3 separate regions of the Homo sapiens genome follow, and all the other regions are linked to region 3. The links come from fine-mapping of genetic effects on gene expression. A gene starts in region 3. Each other region holds a variant in brackets. All regions are shown on one strand. Distances are from middle to middle.

Region 1 (6,483 bases), 130 kb after region 3:
TACAGTGGGTATGTTATGATATCTCATTATGATTTTAATTTGCATTTCCCAAATGACTAATGACATTCGTCATCTGTATATCTTTGGTAAAATCTCTACTCAAATATTTTGCCCATATTTTAATTGAGTTATTTGCCTTTTACCTGTTGAATTGTAATCGCTCTTTACATGTTCTGAAAATAAGTCCTTTACCAAATATATACTTTGCACATGTTTTCTCCTGTCTGTGTGAAGTCTGTACTCTTAACCATTTCCTTCATTGCTTCTCAATATTTATTGAAATAATTGAGAAACGTCTGCAGGATAGTGACCCCTTCCTACTAGCAATTGTGTGTTTTAACGTTAACAAAAGGTAAGAAAACCCTGTTGACACTTTTGTTTGAAGACTGTAAGTTCACGTTTTCGCTATTTATCAAATCTCTTCCATTTTGGTACAGAATAGAACAGTCCTTTTTTGGATTTGAGGAATCGATGAGGTCACAGGTGTGATTACCTCTGAGTTCTCTGTCTTTACTATCCATTGAAAATAACTAGATAACTCTCAGCTCTGGGTAACTTGCCCTAAGGTGCCCTGTTTTTAATTTTCTAGTTGTTTTGTTTCATTATGGAGATTGACGGTTTCCAGCAGTTAGACCTAGAGAAGAGTGTACCTTCCAAAAAGACTACTCCTAAAAGGATTATCCATTTTGTTGACGGAGACATCATGGAAGAATATAGCACAGAGGAGGAGGAGGAAGAGGAAAAGGAGGAGCAGAGCACAAATTCAACACTTGACCCTGTAAGCTTAGTATATCAATATTAGGGAACATGGTGGGGGAGGCGGTGAATGAACAAGAGATTGAGCCAGACAAGGTTTATAGAAAGAATAGCTTTAAGCTAAGTCCTTGGTCTCCTTTTTTGCTTTCTAAATCCATGCATAGGCAACTTACAATTTTAATCATCTTGGTCTCTTCATCTGTGAGAGAGAAAATGGAACATATTATATAGAGCATTTTGAAATCTCTACATTAAAACAAATCTGCAGTCACCATTCCTCTTATTAACTACTCTATCTCAATTTCTCCTTTTTTCAGTCTAAACTTTCCTGGGGGCCCTACCTACGATTTTGGGCAGGACGAATAGCAAGCACCTCATTTTCTAGTAAGTACTGCTAAGGTTATTTTTTTCTATCCTAAACAAATATATATATCGATAGGCCCTCAGAGTATGTGGGACTTCCAATTGTGTAAGCCACTCCATCGCATCCTGAATAAGTGAGATCTGGGCTAAGCTTTCATTCCCAAAGGCACAGAACTTCGCATCCTCAGGCAGACCCTTCATCTTTTACCAACTCTCATCAGGAAATTCTTATCTCGGCCCAAATTTTATCTACTTCTAAAGTTCCTACTTATCTTTCTTAACCATACAAAACTGCTATAGATGCCTCTTTCATAGGACAGAGGGCAATATTTGAGGGCAATAATCAGTCCTCCCTGAGTTGACTCTTCTTCTGAATAAACTTCCAAGTTAAAAAAACAATGATTGTTGTATGACACAGTTCTAAGTTTCTAACTTCCCTCATCATAACTGCTTTATTATAAACATGAACTTTATCGATCCCTCCTGGGGGCATAATGAATGGGCTAAGTGAATACTTATAACAACTAAAATACTAAATCTTATTTTGCTTGACTTTCATCAATTTTTTTAAGACATAGTTGACAACATCTAATTACTCATTTCCTTCTAACTTGCACATCTTGTGAATATGATAGGAAGGCAAACTAAGAGTCTGAGAAAATAGAAATTGTATTAATAGCTCTTAGAAATTGATCTTCATTCATTCATTTAAAAAACATTAGTAAGTGTCTACTATATGCTCAGCACTGTGCTGGACCCTGGGACACAAAGATGAATGACAAGTCTCTGCTTTCAAGGGACTCAATATTCAGTGAGTCATATAGACCAGCAAACATGCTCGTAATTATAATTTGTTGTCACAGTTGCCAGGGTAGAAAGTGTATAGGGGCTCTGACCTGGAAGACTCGGGCATGCTGACATGTGGGGGAGACCCCTTAAGAGAGCTATGAAAGTGTGGCTGGCTAAGGCTAGCTTGAGGACCATGAAAGTGACCAGGGAATCTTTAGATTACAGTAAAAAGTAAAGATGGGGTGATTTAGGCAGATGGTATGAACCTTCAAGAAATAAGTGCTTTTACACAAGTGCAGAGGGTTAGTGATTTGGAAGTTACGTTGAAAATCCCGTGAATACCAACCCTACCCTGACCACAATAAGTTAACAGAAAAAAAAATGCTGTCTTCCAGAAAGCTCTCTACACTTCGGTTAAGGCAAAAGGGTTTGAAAAGATATGTTTTAGAGGGAGGGAATTGGAGAAGATTAGGTCAGGTAAAAGAAGCAAAACTCAATATGGGATTGAGAGTATGGAGAAGAAGAATGATTTGCATGTTGGGTTTTGATTTGAGATTGCAGGGATAGGATGTATGGTGAGCCTAGCTTCCTTGTGAGTGCCAAACAGAACTGCAGTGGTAAAATGCTCCTGACTGGGGCTTCAAGATTGTAGTGGAGGCATAAAGATGCTAGCAGTCAGTGCTGTGGTCTGTCTACACAGAGATTTTGTTTGAATGGAGTTGGAACTCAGACGACACAGGTAATTAATTTTTTCAATTTAAAATTCTAGTAGGTCATAAACAGGAAAGCTTCCTAAGATTTATTTTAATATTTTTTTAAAAAGTTATCTTCTACACATGTACTAGGCAGTGCAGCAAATAAACAGGACAAAGAGATAGCATATTAATGAAAAGATAAGACATATTTAAAAACAGCATCATTTTGATGCCCTATATGAGCAATATCCCAAGAGGTAGAATGAGTCAGAGGAATCAGAAAGTCCTATAATTCAGGGGTAAGAGAAGGCTGTCGGAAATCCTCTAATTGTAAAGGAAAACTTTTCTAGGAGACTTCTTTAGGAAACCACTCATTATTCATGCTATGCCTTTATCCCTGACTCTAACAATCCCAGTGCTGAGCCTGCAGGCCACCTTGCTACTGAAGGCAGAAAAGGAAGGCCTTAAACAACTTCTGAGAAGTCTGTCTGGATGCATGGAAGAATTCCTGATGTGGGTCTTGGTAACACTGGATTGAGTTTGGGTTTAATTTGAAATATACTTGGAGCAGATGTTTAGCCGGTATGCATGGGGATAATGAACAATACCTGTTCTGATTGCTCAGGACCCATGCTATACCTGTTGTTAAAGTATATTGAAAATCTCTCCTGATATATACATCTGGAAAAAATAGTTTATATATAATCCCATATAAAGATAGAAGATTTGACAAATTTCCTTTGAATCCTAGAATTTTTGAGAGGCCAAGGCAATTGAAATGTTTTGTCAGCCTTGAAGTTAAGTATAGTAATAGACCACTATTACTATACTATCAGAATAGTTTAAACTCTGGGCATCTCAACTGATGCGAAGCTTTAGTTAGTAATTCAGTTTACGCAAGTGCTCGTTCTTTCTTTTAGCATGTGAATTCCTTGGTGGAAGATTTGCTGTCTTCTTTGGTCTTACTCAACCCAAATATCAGTATGTGTTAAACGAGTTCTATAGGATACAAAACAAGGTATGTGACACTCTGATGGAAACAAGGGGCCTGAGATGGGAATATTGGTTGCTCCAAATTTAGGCCAGTATAGAGAAGTATTTTTCCCACCTGGTCATATGTACTATAATTTCACCAAGCTCCCATAGTCAGACTGACTTATTTTTCTAGTTCTGTTCACCCAGGGACACTTCTTCACATTTGCCTCACTCCTGCGAAGTTAGGATGTCATGAGCTGTGTTGTAGAAGAAGGTAGTTGGGTGAGAAGGCTCAGATTGCTTAAAGTAGAAGCTTCTTACATGGGCATTATATACAAGAGGGGGAGTTCAGAGGTCTTTGTTTGTACAGTTAAACATTTCCTTATTTCTCTCCAAAACAGAAAAGTGACAACAAAAGTGAAAGGAGAGGATCAAAGGCCCAGGCAGCTGAGGTTCCTAATGAAAAGTGTCACTTGGAGGCTGGGGTCC[A/G]AGAGTATGGAACCATACAACAGGATGTGACAGAGGCCATTCCTCAGTGAAGCACCTCATCCAGGGAGGGTCTGGTGGCAGATCCTAGCTCATGATGGCAGCAAAGACTGCAGTTTCCCTGGATCTGTTCCTTGGCCATTGATTACCATGGCAACAACACCAGAGGTAGCACTTCTGAGCCAGATCTGATCCTAATCTCTGTGTGACTTAGTCTCAAGCATCCAGGAATTACAAGCAATAATGAGAGTAATTTTGGACACTTTCTCAGAATAATTTCTATATTCAAGCCACCCCACCTCAACTCCACCCCTGTGATACAAGTCCCATGAGTACTGACATTTGCACAGTAGCATAAATGCCTTAAGGAACTTTGGGACTGGGAGTTTTTGGCTGAAATCCTCTGTCATGGGACGAGGGTACAGTAAAGAAGCTCTATTCCTCAGAAGAAAATTTGGGCACCGCAAAGTCTAAATAAATCCCCTTTCAGGATTTGATATAGTGTGTACTTCCAACAACCATCCTGGCGTAGTTGGGGATTGTTTTACAATAAGTAAACATTGCTAATAACTGTGTTACAAGATCATTATCAAGATCTTTAAGAATTAGGTACATCCCTCCAAATTAAAACAATTGATAAATAATATAAGCTCTAGAAAAAAATATTAATGGATTATTTTCTTATTTATTTGTCAAGAAATTTTCAAAACCTGGAAAGATCGAACATGGAAATCATTGTTAGATAACACAGGGTGTGCTGGCCAAAGTAACTGTGATACATTAATAGCAAAAAACAAACCAAAAAAAAAAAAAATGAAAAACACAGGGCCTGCAGTAGTAAGACATGAGTTCCAGTTTCACTTCTCCCATTTACTAGTTGTGTGATTTGAGATGTCTAGATTTCTGAGCTCCAGTCTACTTTGTAAAATATGGGTGACTTGACTTTGCTTGTTATTGTTATACAGAATTATGAGAAATAATAATTTATTGTTGTTTTAAGCTTTGGAGTGGTTTGTTATGCAGCCATATATAACTGAAATTATAGCTCTAAGAGAAGAGGAAGTTGGAATTAATTTAATATGAAATCAAAGACAGAAGTAGGCCTGGAGCATAAGGAGTTGTGAGTTGAATATAGTAGGATAGGATAGATTATGCTGCACAGACACCTCCAAAATCTCAGTGTCCTAAAACAAGAAAGTTTATTTCTTTCTCTTGAGAAGTCCACTGTCAGTTTAGGTGGCTTCCCAGACAGGTGTTCTCCGTGTGATAGCTCAGTGTTGCATGCTTCTTTGATCTTATGTTTTCTCCATACTGTGATGTGCTCTCGGGGTTGCTGGAAAAGGAACAGCATGGAGAGTTAAGCAGTGGCAATCAATATCTCCACTAAAAATGAATCATGTCACCTCTGTGTATGTTTCGTTCACCAAAGAAAATCACATGGCTATAATTAATTTTATGGGTGTCTGAGCCTCCTAAGATAGCTGAGAAAAGGAAACACTTTCTTCTAATGGCATAGGAGATAAATGGTAGGCTCAAGGATCAATATGATATTGATTTAATCTCAGCTCTCCTGCCTCTTTGTAACCCAGTAGCTCTGTGCAAATTACTCAACTTCTCAATGTTCTCATCTATAAAACAGGTTTGAGACAGGAAGCAAATATAATTTGAACCAGCTTTATGCAACAAAAAAGAATTTTGTGGAAAGTACACTGAGTTATCAAATGGACACCAAAGGGAGATTAGTCTCAATAGGATCTAAACAGTGTGACAAGCAAGCACCCAACAGGTACTGTCTGTCCATCTCTCATCTTTCTTGCCCATGAGGAAGATGCCCACTCTATAGCTCTTGATAATTCTTCTGTTCAAGTGACTGATATACTAGTCTTTCGTCCCCATTTCAAAGCATAGTGTGGATAGAATCTGTTTTGCTCCTTTTTGTCAAGTATCACTCTCTAATTCAATTAATTGTGGCCAGGGAGATGGAGCCTTGTAGTAGCAACATGGTTATGGGACCTATTTCTGGGTTAAGATGGTTCTCAGGAAAAGGAAATTGCAGTGAGCTAGGTAGGTATCCCATGACTGTTTCATGTTAAAATTGAGGAAAAGCACGTAAAGCTGTGGCTCTAATAAGGTGCTTAAGTCATAGTATCAATTACAATTATTAATATTTATGATGGTTAATTCTATGTGTCAACTTGACTGGGCCACAGGATGCCCAAATTAAACATTACTTCTGGGTGTATCTGTGAGGATATTTCTGGATGACATTAGCATTTGAATTGTTGGACTCAGTAAATGGATTGCCTTCCCAATGTGGATGAGCACCATCCAATCCACTGAGGGCTTGAATGAAACAAAAGGCCAAGGAGGGAAGAATTTGCTCCTTTTTTCTGCCTTATTGCTTGAGCTTGGATATCTC
Region 2 (6,483 bases), 160 kb after region 3:
GAAAAGAAGCACATCAGTTATTTTACTATGTATGAAGAGGATACTTTTATCCATTTGAGACATAGAAACTTTTTGATACAGTAAAAACCAAAAATAAGTATATTTGATTATAAATGTCAGATATATCAACATATCACTCTTAAGGTGACAAAGATTAACAATAAAAGGATGGACAAATAACACTAGACAAAATGCAAACAAAAAGAAATCAGGAATGTCAACGAGGTGGAATGTAAGTTTAGAAGCTTGAAACAGGATAAAGGAGAATATTATATAACAATAAAAGACACAATCTACAAAGAAGATGTGTAATAATTATGTATATACTAAACAGCTTTGCATTATATATGAAGCCAAAGGTAATTAAAATATGAAACTTTGATAAAAAATATACAATTACTCTGAGAGATTTTAACTCATGTCTTTCAGATCAATAGATACAGTAGTAAAAAATGTAAGACATATAAAGACTGAATAATGCAAAAGTCCAAAGTTTTATGTCCTATAAATGGAGAACTATTTTATTGTTTGTGAAGCATTTTCCAAAGTTGGTATTACCTTGACCATAAAGGTTGTTAATAAAAATTTTAAAGTAGATATTTTTTCAGGCAAAATTCTTTAATCAAATACCAATTACATTAAATATAAATAACTAAAGGATGGTAATTGTATTTTTTTCTACTTGAAAATTAAAAAGTGTCTTTCTAAATAAATCCTGGATCAAAAAAGAACCAATAAAAAACTATGCTTTTAGTTAGGAAGACAATATAATCTTCCAAATATTAATAGGCATATACAATATATTTCAATGAGATTCACTTTTCTATTCTTTTTTCTTCAGAGATGGGGTCATGTTATGTTAACCAGGTTAGTCTTGAGCTCCTGGCCTCAAGCAATCCTCCTGCCTCAGCCTCCCAAAGTGCTAGGATTCCAGGCAAGAACCACTGCACCGGGCCACTATTATATTCTTTAATGAGATAAAATGATCTTAAAGCTTTTATAGAAGACTAAAGGTTAAAGACTTTTTAAAAATTGTGAAAAAGAAGAATACTGAGAGATACTTCCCTTTCCAGATATTAAAACGTATTTTAAGATCTAGTACTAAAATGTTATGGTAGTTGCTCATTATCATTGTGATTGACCCTCTTTATCCCTAGTAATATTTCTCACTCAGATGTCTACTTTGTCTGTATTAATATAGCCACTCTAGCTTTCTTTCGATTAGGGTTTGCATAAGATGACTTTTTTTTTCACTGTTTTACCTTTAGCTTACATGTGTCTATATTTAAAGTGGGTTTCTTGTGGACAACATATAGCTGGGTCTTACTTTTCAACCAGTCTGACAATGTTTGTTTTTCAGTTGGGGTGTATAGACCATTTACATTTAACATACTTGTTAATATGGTTGGGGTTCTATTTTTTTTTTATGTGTTTTATCTGGGTTTTTTGTTCTCTTTTTCCTCTTACCCTTCCTTCTTTTGGATTAAGTATGACTTTATCTCCTTTATTGGCCTATTAGCTATAACTCTTTGTTCTTAATGTTAATTTACTGGTTGCCTTATAGTGTGCATCTTTAACATATCACAGTCTACATTCAAGTGATATTATTCCACTTCACATGTGATATAAGAAGCTTACTTCTATCAACAATACATCAAAGAGAATAGTTTTTATGTATTATTGCCTCTAGGTCTATCTTGGTTAAAAAGTTCTTTTCAAACCCAAGCTTATACATGTATTCTCTTAAAACTGTTCTATAGTTTTTGTTTACATACAGATTTTAAGTTTTTTTGGAAATTGATTTTTGTATATGGTGTGAAACAGGGGTCTAACTTTATTTTCCTCCAGGCCAGTTGTGTCCTAACCAATATAAAATAAACCATTGTTTTCCCATTGACTTCAAATAGCACTTTTGGCATACAGTCAGATGTTGCTTAACAGTGAGGATATGTTCTGAGAAATGCATCATTAGGTGGTTTTGTCATTGTGCAAACATCACAGAGTGTACTTACACAAACCTAAATTGTATAGCCTACCACACACCTAGGGCATGGACAATAGAAAAAGTATTCTTCCATTGTCTCCTTCTTGGCCTTTGTATTAACCTTATGATATTGGTATCGTAATAGGCAAAAAGAAAAGTAGAAGAGAAAAAAATGTCCAGAAATAGATGTCAGTATATATATATGATAACTGAATATATAGTCAGGCACTATATAACTACATTTTGGTCAACAATGGACTGCATATATGACAGTGGTCCCATAAGATTATAATACTATATTTTTGCCATACCTTTCCTATGTTTATATACACAAATACTTACCACAGTGTTACAATTGCCTACAATATCAGTACAGTAACATGCTGTACAGGTTTGTAGCCTAGGAGCAATGGGCTATACCATATAGCCTAGATGTGCGGTAGGCTCTATCATCCATGTTTATGTAAGGGCACTCTATGATGTTTACTCAAAGGCAGAATCACCTAATGATGCATTTCTCAGAACGTATTCCCATTGTTAAGCAATGCATGGCTGTATGCCAAAAGTGCTATTTCAAGTTAATGGGAAAACTATGGTTTATTTTAAATTGGTTATGACACAACTGGCCTAGAGAAGAATAAAATTGGGATCCCTGCTTCACACCATATACAAAAATAAATTTCCAGAAAAACTTAAACTCTATATGTAAACAAAAACTATAGAACAATTTTAAAAGAATATATGTGTAAGCTAGGGTTTGGAGAGAGAAACCTTTTTAATCAAGACAAGAGCCTAGAGGCAATAAAATATAAAATAAATATATTCGATGATATAAAATATAAAATGTTATATGGCAAAATAAAAACAAAATCACAAGACAAAAAGATTGATAAAAAGTATGTGCCACAAAAATAACTCACACATAAAATGAATATGCATATCTGTCAGAAGGTTCCTATAAATTGACTATCAACAGAATACAGAAATAGAGACAAATAAATATAAAAAGTCAATTTATAGAAGAGAAATGCAAATGGTCAATAAACCAATGAAAATATTTTCTAATGTGGAGAAAATGCAAATTAAAGTAACAATGAGATGTCTCAACTTATCTACCAAATTAGCAGACAATAAAAACTTACTATTGATGAAAATGTGAAAAAAACCTATTCTGTGCATATATTGCCAGGGGAAATTTGGATTGTTACAGCTTTTATGGAAAGCAATCCAGATATATATTTTAAATTTTACAATTTACATACTCTGATGGAGAAATCCTTCTGGAAATCTATCTGCTATAAGTGAAATTCCAATATGTAAAAATATACATGCAAAGATGTTTACCATAGCGTTGTTTGTTGCAGCAAAAAATTAGAAACTGAGTAAATGCCTTTCAATATGGTGGAAGAAACTGTGATACAATTAAGCCATGGAATATAAGTTAATTATTGAAAAGAACGAGTTGCAGCAGGGCATGATGGCTCACTCCTGTAATCCCAGCACTTTGGGAGGCCAAGGCAGTAGGATTGCTTGAGCCCAGGAGTTTGAGACCAGCCTGGACCACATAAGGAGATCCCGTACCTACAAAAAAATTTAAAAATTAGCCAGGTGTGGTGGCTCAGGAGGCTAAGATAGGAGGATTGCTTGAGCCTAGGTGGTCAAGGCTGCAGTGAGCCGTGATTGCACCACTGCACTCCAGCCTGGGTGACAGGGAAAACCCGTCTCAAAAAAAAAAAAAAGAATGAGTTGGATGTATACCACTGAGGGAAATTCCATAATGTATCAAGAGAAAAAAAAAAGTAAAAAAAACTAGACACAAAGGAATACAGATAATATGATCCCATTTTTGTAAAATACACATGAATTAGAAAAGAAAAGCTTATTATATATAGTTTATACGTGATTGTATGAATACAAATGAAGCATGAAAGAATAGATAACAGATTGTAAATTTTGGCAGAGGAGAGGAGTAATAG[G/GAAAC]AAACAAAAGGAGACTAAAGAATTTCCCTGTTCTTTTATAATAATTATTATTATTATTATTTACCACATGATTACTGATTTTTTTTTTTAACAGAGTCTCGCTGTGTCGCCCAGGCTGGAGTGCAGTGGTGCTATCTCGGCTCACTGCAACCTCCTCCTCCCGGGTTCAAGCGATTCTTGTGCCTCAGCCTCCTGAGTAGTTGGGACTACAGGTGCATGCCACCACGCCTGGCTAATTTTTGTATTTTTAGTAGAGACAGGGTTACACCATGTTGACCAGGCTGGTCTCAAACTCCTGACCTCAAGTGATCCACCCACCTCAGACTCCCAAACTGCTGGGATTACAGGTGTGAGCCACCACGCCAGGCTATGATTTTCTATTTAGTAGGAACGATAAAAAATATACGAGGATACTAATTTAAATACTGAGATATAGTTCTAAAATAAATTATGATTTTTCTTTTTTCTTTTATTTTAAAATATTTAATTGACAAATATTGTATATACTCAAGGTGTACAATGTGATGAGGCATATGCATATACATTGTGATATGGACAATCAAATTAACCCATCTATTACCACCTATGCTATACATTGGATCCCCAGAACTTTATCATCTTAAAACTGAAAGTTTGTACTCTTTGACCATCATCTCTCCATTTTTTCCACTTCGAACTCCTAGCAACCACCATTCTACTTTCTGCCCCTGAGTTCAACTTTTTGAGATTCCACATACAAGTGAGGTCATACAGTATTTGTCTTTCTGTGTCCAGCTTATTTCACTTAGAATAATATCCTTTAGGTTTATCAATGCTGTCACAAATGACAGGATTTTTTTTTATGGCTGAATAATCTTTCATTGTATCTAACACATTTTATTTACTCATTCATCTGTCAATGGGCACTTAGGTTGTTTCCATATCTTGGCCATCGTGAATAATGCTGCAACGAATATGGGGATATAGATATCTCTTCAAGATACTGATTTCATTTCATTTGGATATATACCCAGAAGTGGGATTGCTTGATCATATGGTAGTTCTATTTTTAATTTTTTGAGGAACCTCCATACTGTTTTCCATAATAGTTGTACCAATTGGTATTTCCACCAACAGTATACAAGGTTCCCTTTTCTTCATGCCCTTGTCAACACTTGTTATCTTTTTTCTTTTTGATAATAGCCATCCTAAGAGATGTGAGGTGATATCTCATTGTGGTTTTAATTAGAATTCTCTGGTGATTAGTGATTTTGAGCACTTCTTTATATATCTGTTGGCAATCTGTGTGTCATCTTTGGAAAAATGCCTATTTAGGTCTTTTGCCCATTTTTTAATTGGGTTACTTATTTTTTTGCTATGGAGTTTGTTGTACATTTTGATATTAACCCTTTATCAGATATATAGTTTGCATATGTTTTCTCCCATTTCACAGGTTGCATTTTCATTGTGTTGATTATTTCATTTGCTGTTCAGTAGCTTTTCAGTTTGATATAGTCCCATATGTTTATTTTTGCTTTTGTCGCTAGTGCTTTTGTTGACATATCCAAAACAGTCAGAAAACAATTAACAAAATGGCAACAGTATGCCCTTACTTATTAATAATTACTCTAAATATAAATGGATTACATTTGCTAATCAAAAGACACAGAGAGGCCGAATGGATTAATAAACAAGATCCAATAATATGCTAACTACAAGAGATTCATTTTAGTCTCAAGGGCACACAGACTGAAAGTGTAGGGGTGGAAAGAGATACTCCATGCAAACGGAAACCAAAAGAGAGCAGGGGTAGCTATATTTATATTAAACAAACTAGACTTTTAGTCAAAATCTGTCACAAGAGGTCAGGTGCTGTGGCTCATGCCTTGAATGCTAGCACTTTGGGAGGCTTAGGTGAGCGGTTCACTCGAGCACATGAGTTCAAGACCAGCCTGAGCAACATGGCAAAACTCCATCTCTACAAAAAATACAAAAATTAGCCAGGCATGTTGGTGTGTGCCTGTAGTCCCAGCTACTTGAGAGGCTGAGGTGGGAGGATGGCTTAAGCCCAGGAGGCAGAGGTTGCAGTGAACCAAGATTATGCCACTGCACTCCAGCCTTGGCAACAGAGCCAGACGTTATCTTGAAAAAAACAAATAAATAAAAAATAAACAAAATCTGTCACAAAAGACAAAGAAGATCACAATATGATGATAAGAGGTCAATTCATCAGGAGGGTATAACAATTGTAAATACATATGCACCTAACATTGGAGCACCTAAATATGTAAAGCAAATATTAACAGAACTAGAAAGAGAAACAGACAGCAATGCAATAATAATAAGGGACTTCAATCACCCACATTCAACAATGGATAGATCATCTAGAGAGAAGATTAGTAATGAAATAGCAGATGTGAATAAAACTATAGACAAATCAACCTACCAAACATAGACAGAACAATCCATTCAACAGAAGCAAACACACATTCTTCTCAGGAGCACACAGTACCTACTCCAGGGTAGATCACACGTTGGGCCACA
Region 3 (6,483 bases):
TTGTTTTCTCATTTAGACTGCAAATTCCCTGAGGTCAGAAACCCTCCAATGTTACATTTCTATGTATCTTCCACCCAAAACTAGGCAAATTTATTTTTAACTCTTACTTAATCTTTACCCATTTGAAAATTCCATTTGAAGTGTTACCAAATAATACATGTAGGATTAGAGTTTATGTTAAACATCAATGCCACATATTCAAACGCTATGAGTGAAAATGAATTCTGATTCATCCCCTAATTTTATATATGCTAGGAGGAAGAACCACCACCCCTACCTTCACTATGGTCAGCTGAGAACTGTCTTCTAATTATCCACCAGGCTTGTCAATATCTTTTTAAGAAAATGATTTTTTCAAAAATGTAAATAAATCAAAACCCTATAAAATCTACACACTTAAGTAGCTAGTTCTTCAGTAACAGAGAGCTCTGACCTTTCATGTAAAAGCTTTTGTAAATATTAGTCAAAGTGAATATTATTCACTTTGTAAAGTAATAATATTCGATTAGATCATGTTGGAGTTTTGTTTTTTTCATCAATTAATTGTTATTAATTCTAATCTAAGGAGAAATAAGATAAAATCATGTTTTAAATCTGCTTTAATATTCTGGTAGTATATTGGGAAAAAATACATGCTATTTCATCCACTCCCTCTGCAACAAATACACCCTCATTCAACAGTAAATACATTTCAGGTTCTGTCCTTGGCGGTAAGGATGCTACTGAGGGGAAGACACCAAATGCCTTGTTTTCATGGTATATTCCCTTTTGGTACTATTCATTTTATGGAGGCTTTATTTAGGTTAATAGCATAATATATTTATAATGTGTGAAGATCTGTGGGTTTATTCAACAAATCATTTGTTGAGTACCTTATATATTCCAGACATTGTTCTAGGCACTGATATTACAGCAGTGAACAAAACAGACAAATCCGCTGCTTCCATGGAGCTTATATTGGAGGTTGGGTGGCAGTAAAGTAGATAAACATAAGGCAGGTGGTAAACGCTCTAAAGAAAAATAAAGCACAGTGATGAGCCAGCTAGTCATGAGAAGGAGTTCTGTTTTACGTAGGGGTATCAGGGAAGGCCTCACTTGTAAGATATGGCACTGTTACAGAGACACGATGAAGTGAGGAAACTAGTTAGCCAGGCAGACTATTTGGGGAATTATTCCAGGCTGACGGAAAATTGCAAGTGCAGATACACGAATGCAGGATTAGGCTTGGTGTATCTGAGTGGAACCAACAGAGCAAGGGAGGAGTGTTAGGAAATGAGGGTAAAAGGGCAGAGGAGTAAAATTAAATAAGACAGTGTACTCCATAAAAAAGTAATTGCATTTTACTTGGAAATGGGAAGCCATGGGAAGGTTATGAGCAGGGGAGAGGCATGACCACATTTATTTCATAAAACAATTGCTTTAGCTACTATTGAGACTATGACTTTGGAAGGGCAAGAGCAGAAGCAAGAACATGACAAGGCTATTGCAGTTATTCAGGTGAGAGATGGGTGGCCTGGCCTGCACTGCTGGCACTGGAGATGGGGAGAAGTGGTCAGATTCTGAATGTATTTCAAATGTTTATGCTGAGTGAAAGAGTCAGACAAAAAAAGAATGTATACGATATTATTCCATTTATATCAAATTCTAGAAAATGCAAACCAATCTGCAGTGACAGAAGGTTGTCTGAAGACAGCTGGGACAAGGGAGGGAGGGATTATAAAGGATCATGAGAACTCTTTCAGAGGTGATGTTGATGAATATGTTAATTAACTTCATTGTGGTAATGGTCTCATGGGTGTAGACATATGTCAAAAATTATCATTGTACACTTTAAACATGTGCAATTTATTGTAGGTTAATTATACTTCAACAAAGCTATTAAAAAAGACATGGGATTGTCTGATGGATTGGACTTGGGTGTGAGAAAAAAGAGGTCGAGGATGGTTTGTATGTTTTTGGCTTAAGCACCTAGAAGATAGGAATTAAATTGTCATTCCTATTCCTCAAATAGGGAAGACCGAAAGGAGCAGAGTTTGAGAGAAAAAGATAAAGAGTTTGGTTTTCAACATATTGTTAGAGATGCCTATTAGACACATCTAAGATATTAAAACAAATAAATACACAGTAGAAAAGAAATGAAGAATGAACAGAACTACTACTTGGATAGAAAGTGCTTGTCCGTGACCTTACCAAATGTATATTTCTCAAGACAGCATTGGAATTACATTGGCCCAGTAGGAACTCTCACGGCTCCTACAGACAAAAATTTGTGAGCATCTGTTTACCGTTTTTTCCTTATTCGATATAATGGATTGCACAGACAAGCCACATTCTTTCTTCTTGCTTTTAAGTAATACGATTTGTTTGGGAAACCAGCTGCTGGGTTTGTTGTTCAAGGTTGATGAGTAACCTTAGAGATTGCAATGAGAAGCTGCTGGTCACAGACAGATGCCAAGTTCTTCAACCAGGGCTGGAGAGCATTGTAGCCACTCTTCTGGAGAGCATTGTAGCCACTCTTCTCTGGGCTGACCTGCTCATGCAGTCCCCCGCTTTTTTAACTGCACATATAAATCATCCAGTTATAGTATGATTTAAATAAGATTTTGCTTCCCTGCTCAGAAAGAAAGTACAAAAATTGCTTGTTGCTTGATGGAGGCTTTACAGAGCTGTGATTAAAAAGGAGCATACTACCTGGGTTTGAATCTTAGCTCCATCACTCACTAGGTGTTTGAATGCCTTAAGGTAGTCATCTCTGAAATGGGGATCATAATAGGACCTACTACTCTAAGGTGCGATTGTTGTGAAGATTAATCTTAATTCTGGCATGAAATAAGTATAAAATGGAAGCTCATCACACTGTTATTAAATTAATTTACTTTTTTCCTATGGATATAGATCTAGGAATCTCAAGATCTCAGCCCAAGGACCATTACCCATTTCTATCAACGACCAAGCAGGCCACGGGCTCTGATTTATATCCTCAGCCCCCTATTCCACTCACCTCCCCCTTTCTTAATCAAAGAGCACCACGGGATGGTGCCCCCAAGGAAGCCCTGGGAGGCTGAAAAGGAGGGAGCCTGAAACCAGAGACTAACAGTGGCAAATCGCGGGTGGGATTTGGCAGTTCAGAAAAGGAGGTACCATGCCAAGAGTGGGGGTAGCGGGGTGAAGTAGCGGGGTGAAGTGGGGGGCTGGTTCGGGACAGGCCACAAACCAGAAACTGCGAGAAGGCGCCAGAAGGGACCTGTTGAGATGGCGCAGGGTTGGGGGACCCAAGCGCGCGGGGAGGGGTGAACTAAGAATGGAGTCACGCGGAGGTGCTGCGAGGGACTGGGGCAAAGGCAGGTGATTGGGCGAGGGAGTCCTGGTTGCCACGGCAGCGACCAGAGGAGAAGGCTTCGAGGAGAGGAGGAGGCTGCTGTCAGTCCTCCTCCTGGAGGTCTCCCGCATCCCTCCTAGAGCCTCTGCTGACGTGTCAGTCGGAAACTGCTCAGACCTTCGCGGGCGCCGCCCCTCTGCGCTTGTCTTCCCACATGCCCCCGGCGCTCCGCCTGGTCCCTGCCCGCGTCCCTGCCCCCGTCCCTGCCCCCGTCCCTGCCCCCGTCCCCGCCCCGTCCCCGCCCCCGCCCCCGCCCCCGTCCCCGCCCCCGTCCCCGCCCCGTCCCCGCCCCAGCCCCCGCCCCAGCCCCCCCGTCCCCGCCCCGTCCCCGCCCCCGTCCCGCCCCTCTGCGCCCGCCCCGGCCTCCTCCTCCGCGTCACCGGCTCCCCGAGGTGACCACAACATGGCTGCGGCGCCTGGGCTGCTCGTCTGGCTGCTCGTGCTCCGGCTGCCCTGGCGGGTGCCGGGCCAGCTGGACCCCAGCACTGGCCGGCGGTTCTCGGAGCACAAACTCTGCGCGGACGACGAATGCAGCAGTGAGTGCGCTGGAGGGGCGGCTGGCCTCGGGGCGGCTGGCCTTGGGGTCTCCGCCGGCCCCGGGGGTCTCCGCGGCGGCGCCGCCTGGGCTGTGCGGGGACGGGAGTTCCGCAGCCCCTGGCCGGCCCGGGGGTCGCAGGCGGGATGGGCTGAACGCGGGGGTGGGCGCGCTCCGGGTCCCTGTGTCTGCCTTCTCCCGCTCTGCCTGCGCCCGGCCCCTCGGGCCTGACCATGGGGGCTGCACCTCCCACTTGTTGCCAGCGTTTTATTTTTCCTCTGCTGAGGCGGGGGGTTGCTTGCGGTGGTCCCCGGCTTCCCCAATAGTGGCTCACAGCGTCCCCTTCCCACCCCCCCAATCCGCCTGGGCTCGGAGGGTAGATGTGGTTGCGCGCCGCGCGTCTGGGCTCCCCACGCCGCAACCAAAGCTTTCCTGCCCGCGCTGCGGGGACCTCGGTGGGTGCATCACCCCGGCAGATGCGCTAAGGGCTCGGTGGGCGTTTTCCCAGTGGCAGGTTGATGGTGGGGTTTGTTTGGAAAGGCTCCCTGGCGCTGCTCCTTTGCCCTTCTGCTTTATTGGGATTTGGGCTTGTACCGCCTTTTGAACAGGAATTGGGAGTTTAGGTTTGGGACGAGTCTGGAGTCCAAGCACTCATTGTATTCCGAGGTCTCTGCCCCGACTTTGATCAATCCTGTCGTTTCTGTGCTTGGAAGCCGCCTTGCAGACTGCTAGGCAGGACTGCAGGAAGACCAAAATCTTTCGCTCTGCAGAGACCGAGGATCTGCACCGGCCACCTGGGACCGGCAGCCTCCTCTTCTGTGCGCAGGAAGCGGAATTGCTCTCCAGTCTGGGATTGGAGGTGGGCGGTGGAGAGGGCACAGATCTTCAGGCTCAGATGAAGAAGGTTATTACAGGAATGACAGTAAATACTCCAAGGGTCTCATAAGCCAAGCTTGGTTTAGCCTTAGCCGCTTGCGTGTTGAAACCTCTTCCCTCTATGTTCGCCGGACCAGGATCATTTTAGGGCCTCCCAGACCGTCTCAACCTTGTAACTTACTGATAGCCACTGCAGAAACGGTTTTTCATACACTGTTAAGCAATGCCTATAGAAACGTATTCATTTTAAGAAGGCCAAGAACTCTATGGTTTAGCTATTTATATTCAAATTGATGTTATCAAAACCGAATTTCATAATATGAACTGTTTGTATCTCTACAACACTAATCAAGAAAAGAGATCTCTAATGAGTGTGAAGCCATTCCTAGAGATAACCCTGTGGTTGATGTAAATAAACACTACAAAAGCGGTACAACTGCCATGATTTTTCCCTTTAGTTTTCTTGGGTCAAAGCCACGCTGTTACCCATTTGCCGTTGGCAATGGCAAGATAGTTGGTATTCTTTGCTTGCAAGCATTGCCCTGCCTGGGTTCCTCAAAACAGGTTACCTGGAGAATCATCACATCACTGATGCTTCTTCAGTACTGAGGCATGATGTTAGAAGAGCTCACGGTTGTAACATAACTTGAGAAATGGTACGTGTTCAGAGGAAACCAAATACAATAGGCATCAACAGGAGCAAGGTCTAGATGGGTCTGTGTTGTGTTGTAGAAAGTGTTTAGTAATGTGAGTATGTACGGTGCCCTTGTGTGGTTTTCAAATAGCTGTTCCACAGGGTGCATTTTGTTGGCATCTCAAATATTATTATAAATCCTCTATGATCTATTGTAAGGGGGAGCAAAAGAAACATTGCCATTTTCAATTCTGATCTTATTCCCAACCTTAAATTGTCCATCATCTTAAACCTGGCCTCACACTCAATTATATCTGAGCTACAAAGCTGACATGTTGGAAAGTAATCAGAGTTTAGCTTCAAAAAACAAGTAGCCCCTTCCAAATCTATATGCGTGTATAGCCATTTAAAGGCACGTTTTTAATGTATTTTATTGCAAATTGGCTTTTGGAAAAAATCTTATTTCTATTCGTCCTTCTTTGTCTCTGCTATTTAGATGTATTTATTGTCCATTTCATCTTACATGGGAAACTGTGTATGTGGTCAACAAAAATAAAAGTACTGCTTCAGCCAGTTTCTAGATCAAGCGTGATTGAATTACTGACCTATTCTCATAGTTTTGCTTAGTCCCAGCCAAATGAGATGTCGACTTTTGATTTTGTTTATAGAAAAATATACATAAGGGTATTCTTTCCTTTGTTTTGAAACTTAATTTTGGATACAGTCAACATTATTTACTTTCAGAAAATATTGCCTTGTGATGTAATTGAATCTATAGTAGGGTGTGATAGATATCTTTTCCCATTAATTTATCCAGACACTGTACTAAGGGAACAACTTGGCTGCAAATGAAATTGACAGTGTTTACTGCTACATAGTACTGGTTACAGTCACTTGAAGATAGACCCTTTTAGTGGTTAGTTCAAGTTAATTGACCTCTTGGGGGTTCCTGGGTACTCTAGTTCCCTATTACCCGTTCATGTAGCCATGCTTAAGTTAATCATCATCTGGGCTTGAATTTACCCATTTGCAAAAGGAAGCTTTTTATGAATATGAAAC

Direction of the effects. Positions count from the first base shown, and alleles are read on the strand shown. Sizes are in standard deviations (SD) of each study's normalised expression. Not every link is listed here.
For the expression in lymphoblastoid cells of the gene that starts at base 3,769 in region 3, G is the low allele of the variant in region 1 and A is the other (moderate effect, 0.52 SD a copy in TwinsUK).

Evidence for each region. PIP is the estimated chance that this variant, and not a neighbour inherited with it, causes the effect.
Region 1: its variant is fine-mapped to the expression of MIA3 in lymphoblastoid cells (TwinsUK, PIP 0.95).
Region 2: its variant is fine-mapped to the expression of MIA3 in whole blood (INTERVAL, PIP above 0.99).

What each region holds. Positions count from the first base shown.
Region 1 is chr1:222,745,942-222,752,424 of GRCh38, forward strand. FAM177B (family with sequence similarity 177 member B) reads left to right here. Exons shown (of 6, transcript NM_001394345.1): 3 at 590-778; 4 at 1,074-1,140; 5 at 3,524-3,621; 6 at 3,980-5,063. The coding sequence starts at 605. The coding sequence ends at 4,117. LOC105372984 (a long non-coding RNA gene) reads right to left here. Exons shown (of 4, transcript XR_922641.3): 4 at 5,241-5,397. Among named protein-coding and RNA genes, the nearest start is that of FAM177B, 12 kb to the left of the region's middle. The variant A/G (reference allele first, on the strand shown) is at 4,068.
Region 2 is chr1:222,775,694-222,782,176 of GRCh38, forward strand. No RefSeq gene overlaps it. Among named protein-coding and RNA genes, the nearest start is that of DISP1, 36 kb to the right of the region's middle. The variant G/GAAAC (reference allele first, on the strand shown) is at 3,961.
Region 3 is chr1:222,614,329-222,620,811 of GRCh38, forward strand. It overlaps MIA3 (MIA SH3 domain ER export factor 3), which reads left to right and starts at 3,769. Exons shown (of 28, transcript NM_198551.4): 1 at 3,769-3,915. The coding sequence starts at 3,783. RefSeq lists a cis regulatory region at 2,179-2,761, silencers at 3,567-3,636, 3,807-4,066 and enhancers at 3,587-4,469, 4,750-4,809.